2 separate regions of the Homo sapiens genome follow, and region 2 is linked to region 1. Evidence: fine-mapped expression QTL. Tissue or cell type: fibroblasts. Region 1 holds a variant in brackets; the other region holds the start of a gene. All regions are shown on one strand. Distances are from middle to middle. Region 1 has its middle 140 kb from the start of SGCD. Region 2 holds the start of SGCD (sarcoglycan delta).

The links.
Region 2: SGCD starts here. The variant in region 1 is fine-mapped to the expression of SGCD in fibroblasts (GTEx, PIP above 0.99).

The regions. Positions count from the first base shown.
Region 1 is chr5:156,183,944-156,189,324 of GRCh38, forward strand. It overlaps a transcript of SGCD not described here. Among named protein-coding and RNA genes, the nearest start is that of SGCD, 140 kb to the right of the region's middle. The variant A/G (reference allele first, on the strand shown) is at 3,019.
Region 2 is chr5:156,324,487-156,329,867 of GRCh38, forward strand. SGCD (sarcoglycan delta) reads left to right here and starts at 2,678. Exons shown (of 9, transcript NM_000337.6): 1 at 2,678-2,746; 2 at 5,048-5,093. The coding sequence starts at 5,091. All of the region lies in intron 2 of LOC124901120 (a long non-coding RNA gene), which reads right to left.

The DNA.
Region 1 (5,381 bases):
CAGCTTTCAGTAGGGTTACATTTTGACAAACACATCATCAGCTGAAAATATTGTAAGTTGAAATGTATTTAATATTCCTAACCTACCAAACATCATAGTTTAGCCTAGCCTACTGTAAACATCCTCAGAACACTTACAGTAGTCTACAGATGGGCCAAAATCATCTAACGTAAAGCCTGTTTTATAATAAAGTGTTGAATATCTCAAATAATTCATTGAATACTATACTGAAAGTGAAAAACATGATAGTATGGGTACTGGAAGTACGGTTTCTGCTGAATGCCTAACGCTTTCACACCATTAGAAAGTCAAAAAATCCTGTTGAACCATCATAAGATGGTGACCATCTGTCCTAGAAGCCACAACTAAAAGAACTGAAAATGTTATCCTGTGAAGTGGGGATATGAGGAAGGCTGACAAGCAGCCAGTTTTTTTTTTTTTTCATTGTAAGCCTTTTTATTAGCTTTTGGATTGTTAAATATATGCAAATAGTACTTGGATAAAATATTTTAAAAAATAATTTAAATAAGATGCTACCCCAATCTGTGCCCTCTCAAACTCCTGATATTGCAATATGCCCTCATATGTTTATTGATTGCTTCTTCCTTGTCCTGTCTTATATTTATGAGACTTCTTAAAACACCTAAAGTAAGGAGTGTATTTCTTAATGAGGCACAATTGATTCAATACAATTGATTTAATACAAACATAAAGAATATCAGTGGTTCCAAAGGTCACCCTACCACCACCTCCTTATTCCCTCCTGCTCTGCTAGTTTGATGGAGCAAGAGTTCATTCATTTTGCCTCTCAGCAGAAGACAAGGACCATGCCAAGATAAGGGCACAGGTGAAATAGTGAGGACCACCAGCCCAAGAGGAGCCAGTTATATCAAATATAACTAAATAACCCAGTGCTGCCTGCTGTTGCCCTGAAGCTGAGATTGGGTCTTGTATATTATTTATCTGGAGCAGCAAATTATAAAAACAATAATCTCACAAAGTAGACTGGGTTTAAGGTGACTATTCCAATATGCAATATTCCTGTGCCCCATTATGAGCCTTCAAAACACCATTCAAGGAACAATGATTCCTTATGGATGCTCACTTTTTACATTTCTTTCCTTTTAAGTCAGTCTCTGAGTTATTTGAATTCTAAAAATAATTGAAATGTTTGTGTTTTGGTTCTAAATGTTCCTTCAGTGGTGATGGTCAGGCAGTAAAATGACTGGCTTTGTTATACTGCATGCGTTTCTCCTTCCTTTAATTTTCTTTTTTTTTTTTTTTTTTTTGAGACAGAGTCTTGCTCTGTTGCCCAGGCTGGAGTGCAGTGGCACAATCTCGGCTCACTGTAAGCTCCGCCTCCCGGGTTCACACCATTCTCCTGTCTCAGCCTCCCGAGTAGCTGGGACTACAGGCGCCCGCCACCATGCCCGGCAAATTTTTTGTATTTTTAGCAGAGACGGGGTTTCACCACGTTAGCCAGGATGGTCTCGATCTCCTGACCTTGTGATCCGCCCGCCTTGGCCTCCCAAAGTGCTGGGATTACAGATGTGAGCCACCGCGCCTGGCCTCTTTTAATTTTTTTAATCCTCTGTATCCCCCTCCTTTTTTCAACTATGAATTGATTAACATCTTTTTCCCTTGATAAGAAATGAAAGACTACAGTTAGTTGTCTGATATGTACAAATTAACTTGAAGTTAAGGATAATCTGGCATCTGACTTTCCCCAAGGAAACCTTGCCAGAAACAGCGTGATTTATTTTTAACACTTTTCACAAAAACCCTCCCCTGTGGGACCTCAACAAATGTCACTTCTGTTGTGAGACTTTTAAAAACAGTGGGCTGTGATTTTTACAAACTTATAAATATGGCCATATATATGTGTGTGTGTATATATATATATATATAGAGAGAGAGAGAGAGAGAGAGAGAGAGAGAGAGAGGGCCATGTCTCCCATATGCTTTCTTTACTGTGTTCATAATTGCTCTGTTTCAGAACTCTTCAGGACTTGGGGTACTTTTGATCTGCACCAAAGATCTGTGATCGGAATAACGAAATATGGTAGAAGCATCCTGTATTAAATTATTCTAATTGGCCACTTTAATGTTTACTAGTGTCATTAGAAGACTTTCCTGGCAAAAAAAAAAATACCTATTTCCAACTTTGTGAGATTTCCTCTAATTTATTAATTTACAAAAACCTGTTGAACCCCTCTTATACCAGGACCTGAACTAAGGAGTGGATTATAATCAAGAGAAACATTCTGGTGCAAAGTGAAGGTAACATATTAATATAAACATGGGGTGACTTCTATATTGAGTTCTAACATATTGAGGTTGTGACTGGTGGGTAGTTGGGGGTGAAGATGGACTGGTTGTAATCTATGTTGATATCTGCTATGATACTGTTGTTGCCATATGGTCTGTTGTCCTTTGAAGATACCGCCAAATCATCCTTCATCCCTACCGTTCAAGTACAGCTTTCTCTCATATCTTCTAAAACCACTTTAGGACACATGAGATCATTCTCCTCCTCAAATATTAGCTAAAGAAAGCATCTATGGCACTCCTAAGACTTTATCTGGTTTTATGCTACTTTTGGGCAAATAGGTGATTGTATTGCTCCTGAGGCATTCTCTGCTTAGCTGCTTAATGCTCTCTCTGCTTACATACACGACTATATGCAACTATGAGTTTTTCCTGGAGTTATGCTGCTTTCTTGGGCTCTAGCCTGGAATTGATATTCTCTGCTGTCCTGTGTCTCCAAGCTAATCTGAACTTGTCACATCTGAACTTGTTTTAAGGCTCCCTTTTCTTCAAGACCCTGAAATCTCTGTTCACTCCTTGCCTCCCCTTTACTTTTCCTCCCAATAAGGAATTTTTATCCAATTTGCTATGTGAAGTATGGGAGTCAGCCAGATAGCTCTGCCTTTTACTCATCCAAAGTTTTCCCAAGTCAATGGCCTTTACTCATGAGTAATATTTGTTCTCTCCTAGGAGAATGTACTAAGTTTTGGA[A/G]ACTCAAAAGTCAAGAATGTACCTCTTTTTTTCTTTTCATGTTTTTTTTCTACCCTCTAGAAGCAATGAACATAGAAGGGCATCGTCAGTACTTTAATGAGGGAAAGGGGCAATGGGTAAAAGGGTGAGTATTTCAAAATATTTAATCTTACTAGATTAGTTCTACAACAAAACCCAGTATAAACAGGATAATAGAGATAATCATAAACCAAGTTAAATGACCACAGCAGAGAGGAAAAAGATCCTTCATTCTAGGGTGACTGAAGATGGCTTCATGGAGGGCATGGAGTTCTGCTTGGATAATGGGGAATGAATATGATTTCAATAGGATAATGGGAAATGGATATGATTTTAATAGCAGGTTTTTTGATGGAGGAGGGACCAAAAAGGCTTTCTCAGTAAAGAGAATTGCTGAACAAAGGCAAGCCATTTGAGAGGATCTAGGATGTGCAGGAAAACAGTTTTCTTTTGGCTAGAATGTTAAAAGCATTCTGAATAGACATATAGTCTCTAGCCCTCTAGAGGCTTCTGGATTTGAATCTTGAGTCTGACCTTACTAGCTGTGTGACCTTGGGTGAATTCCTTAACCTTTCTCTGCCACAGTTTCCTCATATGTAAACACGAATACTGATAGTACCTGTGGCATGATGTATGAGGATTAGGTGTGTTATAAATGGTAAGGTGCTTACAACAGTGTCTGGGGCTTAGAAAACACTGTTAGCTGCTGTTATAACTTTGTTAGGGAGAAGAGGGGAAAGCTAAGCTAAGGGAGAAAGGGTGGGAAAGACCTTGAATGAGATGAGGATGGAACTGGCCAGAGATGATGTAATGAAAATTCATCTTGGCAAAACTGCTTAATTTAAATCAGTGATTTTCCAACAAAATTCTGTGTAAGACTGACAAAGAAGCTCATTAGAAATGGAATTCCCAGGCTGCTCTCTCCTCCTAGTGATTGTGATCCAGGAGGTACAAGGTATGGTGAGAAATATGTGTTCTTAACAGTGAGGATTCTAAAAGCTAAGATTAGGGTGAGGCAGTGAGGTGCCTAGGGTGCAGAATTCAAGGAGGCTGTCATGTTCGGGGTCATGCTAGTGCAGGGGGGCCTAAGAGTAAGTGTTTCCTTACATTTTATGCCCCAGATGCCTTATTAGCCTTGCCCTGGTCTGAGCTTTGAGATTCTGATGCTGGTGGAGGAAGAAACTCATTCATTCTTTTACTCATTAGACATATTTCCTGAGCACCAGCTGTGTGCCTGGCGTTATTCCAGGTGCTTGGCATACATCATTAAAAACAACTGACAATGATCCTGCCCTTGTGGAGCTCATATTTTAGAGGGACAGTCAAAAAATAATAAACCTAATAACAAAGTAAATTATACATTAGTTAAAAGGTGATAAATACTGTGAGAAAAATAAAAGTAGAGCAGGATAAAGGTAGTGGCTAATACTCGAGATGCTTTGTTTTAAAGGAGGTCTCAGGCTAGTTCTAAGAGAATAATCTCCAGGACCTACTCAAATATAGCAGTAGTGGTGACCTGGAGTTTCCTGTGTTGCAAAAGGCTTCTGAGAGCCTTTCCTTCCTCAGCAGGAAGCATGTTACATGGGCCATTGGTAGTGTCTACTGTTGGGGTTCAAAGACAAATATCTACAAAATATGGCACTTTGACATGCTGAAGAAGCCTCAGTGTCTCTCTGACCACCCCAACCGCCCCCCCCGACACACATACACACAATCCCTCTCTACATGCACAAGATGAAGTTGAAGTTCCTTTATCTGCCCAAGATCCAGACCCACCAAAGAAAACAGTTCTATTTTCGCCTCCTTCTAAGACCGAGAGCGTAACCACATCTGAACAGACCCTTTTACAAATTAATATACAAATTAATCTCTGATCCATTCATTCTCCCTAGTAATTCCCTCAACAGAATTCCTCTTCTCCCCAACCCTATAACCTGTTTTGCTAGGATGGTGTATAAGCTTCTGCACCCTGTTGTAGAGTGGGTAATCACTCTGTGGTTTTCCCAGTGTACACATTACATAAATTTGTGTGCCTTTTCTCCAGTTAATCTGACTTTTAGGAGTTGATTTTTCAGTGAATCTTCAGAGGGCCAGGGGAAGCTTTCGCTTGACTCTCCACCACCATGGGTTCAGCCAGGAAGAAGAGGGTTATAATTTCCTTCTCTTTGCCTCCTTTAACATCCAACAAACCTAACATGTTACCTCTTCTGGCACCTGCCATTAATGCAGCTATGAAGAGTACGTGCTAGTGACACAGATGTTCTGTTTTTTTGGAGGCTGAAAACCTCTGGGGGTTGAAAATGATTCTGTGAGGAAAATCTAAAGGCAAATTGATGGTAAAATGT
Region 2 (5,381 bases), 140 kb after region 1:
ATAACATTTCTTAACATTAGAAGAATTAAGTATGTTTTCAGGATTTTCTAGCTAGCAGTTATAAAGCTGGGTCTCAAACTGAGATCTCTCCAGATGCCCACATTGAAATGAGCCACATAACAAGTCTTTGGGGAGACATGAGGGCAGGGTCTCGTGAATCATATCAGCATTGTTTGATTAGGGCTGAGTATCAGCTTGAGTTTTTTTTAAATTGATTACCAGAACATTCAAGATTAACTTCTTCAACTATTTAAAACTTCTTTTTTTTTTTCCCTGAAAAGAAGCAGGGCATAAAACGTGAATAATAAACAATAAGCGGTTCATTAGCAATTTGCTACCACTGGCTCTCAAAGACTGTGGAACCCCACGTAGAAGTCTGATTCTTTAGAATTTGCAGCAGCTATTTTCTCTGAAAGATTTCTTCCTCAACTTGTGGGATTTTATTTTGCTATTATTGTTAATTTAGGACGTTGCCATTTCCAAACATGAACATTGTAATTGTTAATAGTCTTCTATTTATAGAATGATAATTTTGAGCTCTTAAGGTATAAAGCCCAGTTCTCTGGAATGACACTTTGTTCAGCCTCATGTAACTGACTGCAGATTTGATCTCACTGTTTTTCTTTTCTGTGAGTTAATCTCAAGGAAAGACTTCAGTGTTATATTTAGGGAATAAATGGAAAGTAGCGGTATAGCTGGCTTAATGTTCCAATAAGGCTTCAGGACAGTTCTCCAAGTTTAAGGTGACAGGCCCCTATTACATAAAGTTAAAGCAGCAGAAAACTAGCCACTCAAATACTTTATTCTAGAACTCACACTAGATGGGAGAGTACAATTTGGCTTTTAGGTTAGAGAAAAGGTTTGCATTTTGCTCCATTAAAAAAAAAAGTAAACTGAAATGTATTTATAGGCAGTCATAAACACTTTACACAGATTATCTCACTGAATCCTTAACAATTCTACCAGTAGATTCTATTATGGTTCCCATTTCACAGATGAGGAAACAGATCGAGAGAGGTTAAGCAAGCTGACCAGGGTTTATAGTCAGTAAGATGCAGAGCTAAGATTAGACCCAGGCTATCTGATTAGAAGGCTAGATGATATCACCTTCCCAAATTATGCTGCAGTAGAGAAAGCAGATAGAAAAAGAGAGCACCAATCCCATTTCTAGCTTCAGCTCTGGTATTAACTGTCTTTAAAACCCTGGACAAGTCATCTCATTTGTCTGGGCCTCTACTTCCCTCTGTAAAATGAAGGGTGGAAACAATTTGGATTGGATGATCTCTGGGGTGTCTCCAACTCCAAAGATCTGATTCTGTAATTGCATCTTGACCTTAGATGTGCACACACACCTCCCCACACCGCCTCCCACCCCACTGCTTCCCAAGGCGAAAATCTAATCCTGCTCAAAGTGCCCAGTGTAATTTGATGCTAAACTCACGACCCCACCGAATCCTATTACTTACAACATCCCCTCAAGAACATACAACACTTAAAATCTGGCAAGCCAGTTCTTTAGAATAAGTTGCCAATGGGGTGTGATTTTTGGAAGTAAAATGTTAATACCAAAAACAGAAAAAAGAAACAGTTCAAAACAAATGCTCCTCTCTCTTTAAATCACCTCTTTTCTACAATGTTACCTTGACAACTTTGCTCTGGCTCTTTAGATATGGGGGTTTTTCAGTGTGGGAGAAGAGGGGTGTCCTCCTGTTTTGAGGTTTCCTCTTGTTGCATGGAAAGGGAAAATGTCAAAGGTAGAGCATCAAATCCAGCAGAATGTACACAGGGCATCTTGAGGGAGTGTCATCCAGAAATAATCACAGGTGCACAGAATTAGGACGCATTCTGATTCAAAGTACATTCTTTTCTCTTTTCTATTTTCCATAACCATAACACACATTCCAACAGCCTATAAAATGTTACATTTTTGGACCAGCACTGTTGCAGAACAGAGAGCAACAAAAGTGCCTGAAAAATAATTGCATTATTTTTAGTTGCTGCAGCAAAAAATGTACATATCAGGTTGAGGGGACAGCTCCGAAGAACTGTACCAGTGTGGAAATGCTAAAAATATTGCTCCCCCTCAAGCAATTGAAATTTTGAGCAAAGATTTAGGAAGCGGCAGGTAGGGAGATCAAATTAGAATTTACATCTCTCAGCTGTAATAAGCTTGTTATCAGGACTGGCAAGAGCTCAGGGGGCTGACAGGGGTCAGCTGGGGACTCAAGTGTAAGGAGCAAGTGAAAAAGGAGCAGTGTTGAGCAGAAGAAAGAGAGGACTTATCTCCAGCATCTAGCACTACAGAGCAGAGGCTGTGTGGAGAATGGCTGAAAAATCAGAATTGGTTGTAGAAGCAGTTTTCTTTCTGGTTGTGAGTATGAGCCCGGCAGACACCATGAGCGCTGTTGCAGGGGAGTCGGCCTGTGCTTGACACATGTGTTTCCCATTGATAGCTGGAGACAGCCCAGTAGCTGTGAGTCGGTCTGACAAAGCCATATTGAAGTACGGAGTACGGTTTCAAAGCAGTCAGAAAAAGAACGGGAATGCTGTTCAGGAAATTCTTCAGGCATGGGCAGGGACTTGGCTGCAGTTCTGCAGTTGGAAAATCTGACTGGGGCAGCTTCTGAGCGCAGGCTGGGCCTGCACACACTCAGCGGGCCGAGTGGCCACCTCCTTCAGAGCTGCTCAGCACGCCCTGGGATCGCGGGCGGTTTTCATCGGCCGGTTTGTGAAACGGACAAGAGAGGTAGGGTACTGTTCAGTTCTTGCGTTTGCACGCGTCTGTTCACTTTCTAAGCTATCTGCCTGCTGTATTTGCAGGCACTCCGAGTTTTTAGTGTGTGCATGTGTGTGTGTGTGAATTAGCAAGTTAGAACTCCGTCATGTAAACAGTTGGCATGGGGCTCCAATCTGTGCTTTTCCCCCTTTAAGGTCTGATTTTCAGCAGGGCAGAGAGACTTCTTTTGAAAGTTAGGATTTAGCTGGCAACGTTATTGTGTAAAGAGGAGTATGTGAATTCCTTATGTTGTCACCCTGCTCCAACCATCTGTAACTTTTCCTTTCTGCGTGGAAGGGCCGTTCACTGGCAAGGAAGATAATTTCAGATGAAACTGTCTGTGTGTTTTGCTTCACTTCGCAAGAGTTTTAATGGGGAGTTTTTTGTTGTTGTTGTTTTTTAATAGTAGAAAATGGCTCTCATTTTAGGAGGGAATCAGAGTTTGAAGTTTCTACGTTGGATGACACTTTCAGAGTGTCGAAACAGATATGTGTGTATGGGTTTCTAAAATCTTTTATATAGGAGTTTGACTGTCATTATCTGGGATTTGACTGTCAGTGATATATTTGCCTAGAATTATGCTGGATCAACATTTGTAATTCTGTTTCTATAATCATTTCCAATTTTCTCACTTGAAGTAATTTGCAGTTTTACTCTCAAAAAACACTTCTGTATTTTAGGAAACATAGATAATAAAAAAGTAACAGAAAATGGCAGTTTACTCAAAATTCTTCTTAAAGGACAGAGACATGATGGTGTGAATTTTATTTCATTGATCTCTTGGTTTTATTTTACACCTTACTGCAAAAGAGCTTTTTATAAAAATCAAAGTTTTAAAAATTTTCAGCACAACAGGGATCTTAGTGTTCCTCTTCAGTTTTGGTTCTTCTTTATCAACTCTATTGCAGTATAGATTTTTTCCTCTCATAGGAAAGCTATACCTTGTTTTATGTACAGCATTTAGAAAACACACAGTACAATGTCATTGCATTTGAGAGACTGGTTCAGCCCAAAGCCGAGCTAAACCTTACAACTGCTTTACAATTACTAGCACAGCAATCTGTGACAACATTGGTTTTTTCCGAACGGGGCTTGGCCAAAAGTCTGGTTGGGGAGATGGATGAATGAATGGAATCTTGGATACTTCTTGAGTAGCTGAAGAGTGACTAGACCTCTTAGGGTGGATCTCTGTGACAACAGGTGTGCATTTACTTGTGTCCTACAATCTTTAAACAAGTAGCTAATAGAAGAGCCTGAAGTTAATGCTGAAAGAAAAGTGGAGAGCCAGCATTTCTCATTGCTTCCTCTGCATAAGACCTAGAATGAGAAGGCACACATTCTGTCCTGTTGGTAGAAGGTCAGGATTTTCAGCCAGCGATTTTCTTTTTTCTTCCAAGTGTTGTACTTGGAGGAGGGACCTGGGACAGGACTGGCAGCAGGATATCTTTAAGAGATGGTTCATGAACATTTTCTTTATTAGTTTCATCTTCGTGTTGGGGTGGTGTGGGGAGGGTTTGGGGACTGCAGGGCTTGAGGAAAGGAAGGGGGTGTAGTTAGAAGTCAGGATGGACTGTGACCTTATTTTTTTCTCTAAAGTGCCTAATGAGTGAGAAAAATGCCAAGACAGATTAGGAACTGGCATGAACCGTAGTCAAGCCCACTGCCAATGAAAAAGGGAGCCTTCCATGAGCTCGGGTGTCATACTCCTCTATATTTAGCGTGCGTCAAGCATTGAGCAGAAGAGGCGTGAAATAGCAACTCCAGGTTGCAGGATTATAAAGAGCAGTGCTTGAAACTTGGTAGAAACTCTATAGTTTCTCTCTTTTTTAGAAGTAAAGTAGGGAGAAGTCAAGCTCTCTTGACATCTGAAGAGAAAAAGTAAGCAGCGGAAGGGGGAAGGATACAGAGGAAGAAATCCAGGACAGAGGTGGAGGCAGTGAAGGGAGAGGAATGGCCACAACACAAACTGGGCAGTGAGGGTGGAGGGAGGAGCCCTTGGCACAGGAATGAAACACATGTATTAGAAATAGCCAAAGCCACCAGGCACTGATTTGTTGGACTGGAGGTGTGCAGATACTCAGTGGCCTTGGTGAAGAGAATTGTTTTAGCCACTTCACCACAGGAGACTGCATGGTCAGCCTGCCCTGCCTTCTGGAAGTAATCAGAAAGCACATTTTGTAAGAATGGCATTGCCTGAGGGTTCAGATTTCCTAGGCAAGGAGGGGGCAGGCTCTTCAGACCTTATTTTTAACCCATATTTGTTCCTTGCAGAGACATTACTGCCGGGAGTGTTGAGTGAAGGGACCAGGTGGAGATGGTGAGTAATTCCCGGGAGCGAAGCTTGTTCAAGGCCCTGCTCATGGTCATTTTATTATTAACATAAACTTTTGAAAAAGAGAACAAAGTGTTATATATGCCTTATCCTGATGAAGACATTTCTTTAATTTTACTTTTTTATTTTAAAAAATCTGCAGGCCAGGCACGGTGGCTCACGCCTGTAATCCCAGCACTTTGGGAGGCCGAGGCAGGTGGATCACGAGGTCAGGAGATGGAGACCATCCTGGCTAACACGGTGAAATCCCATCTATACTAAAAATACCAAAAA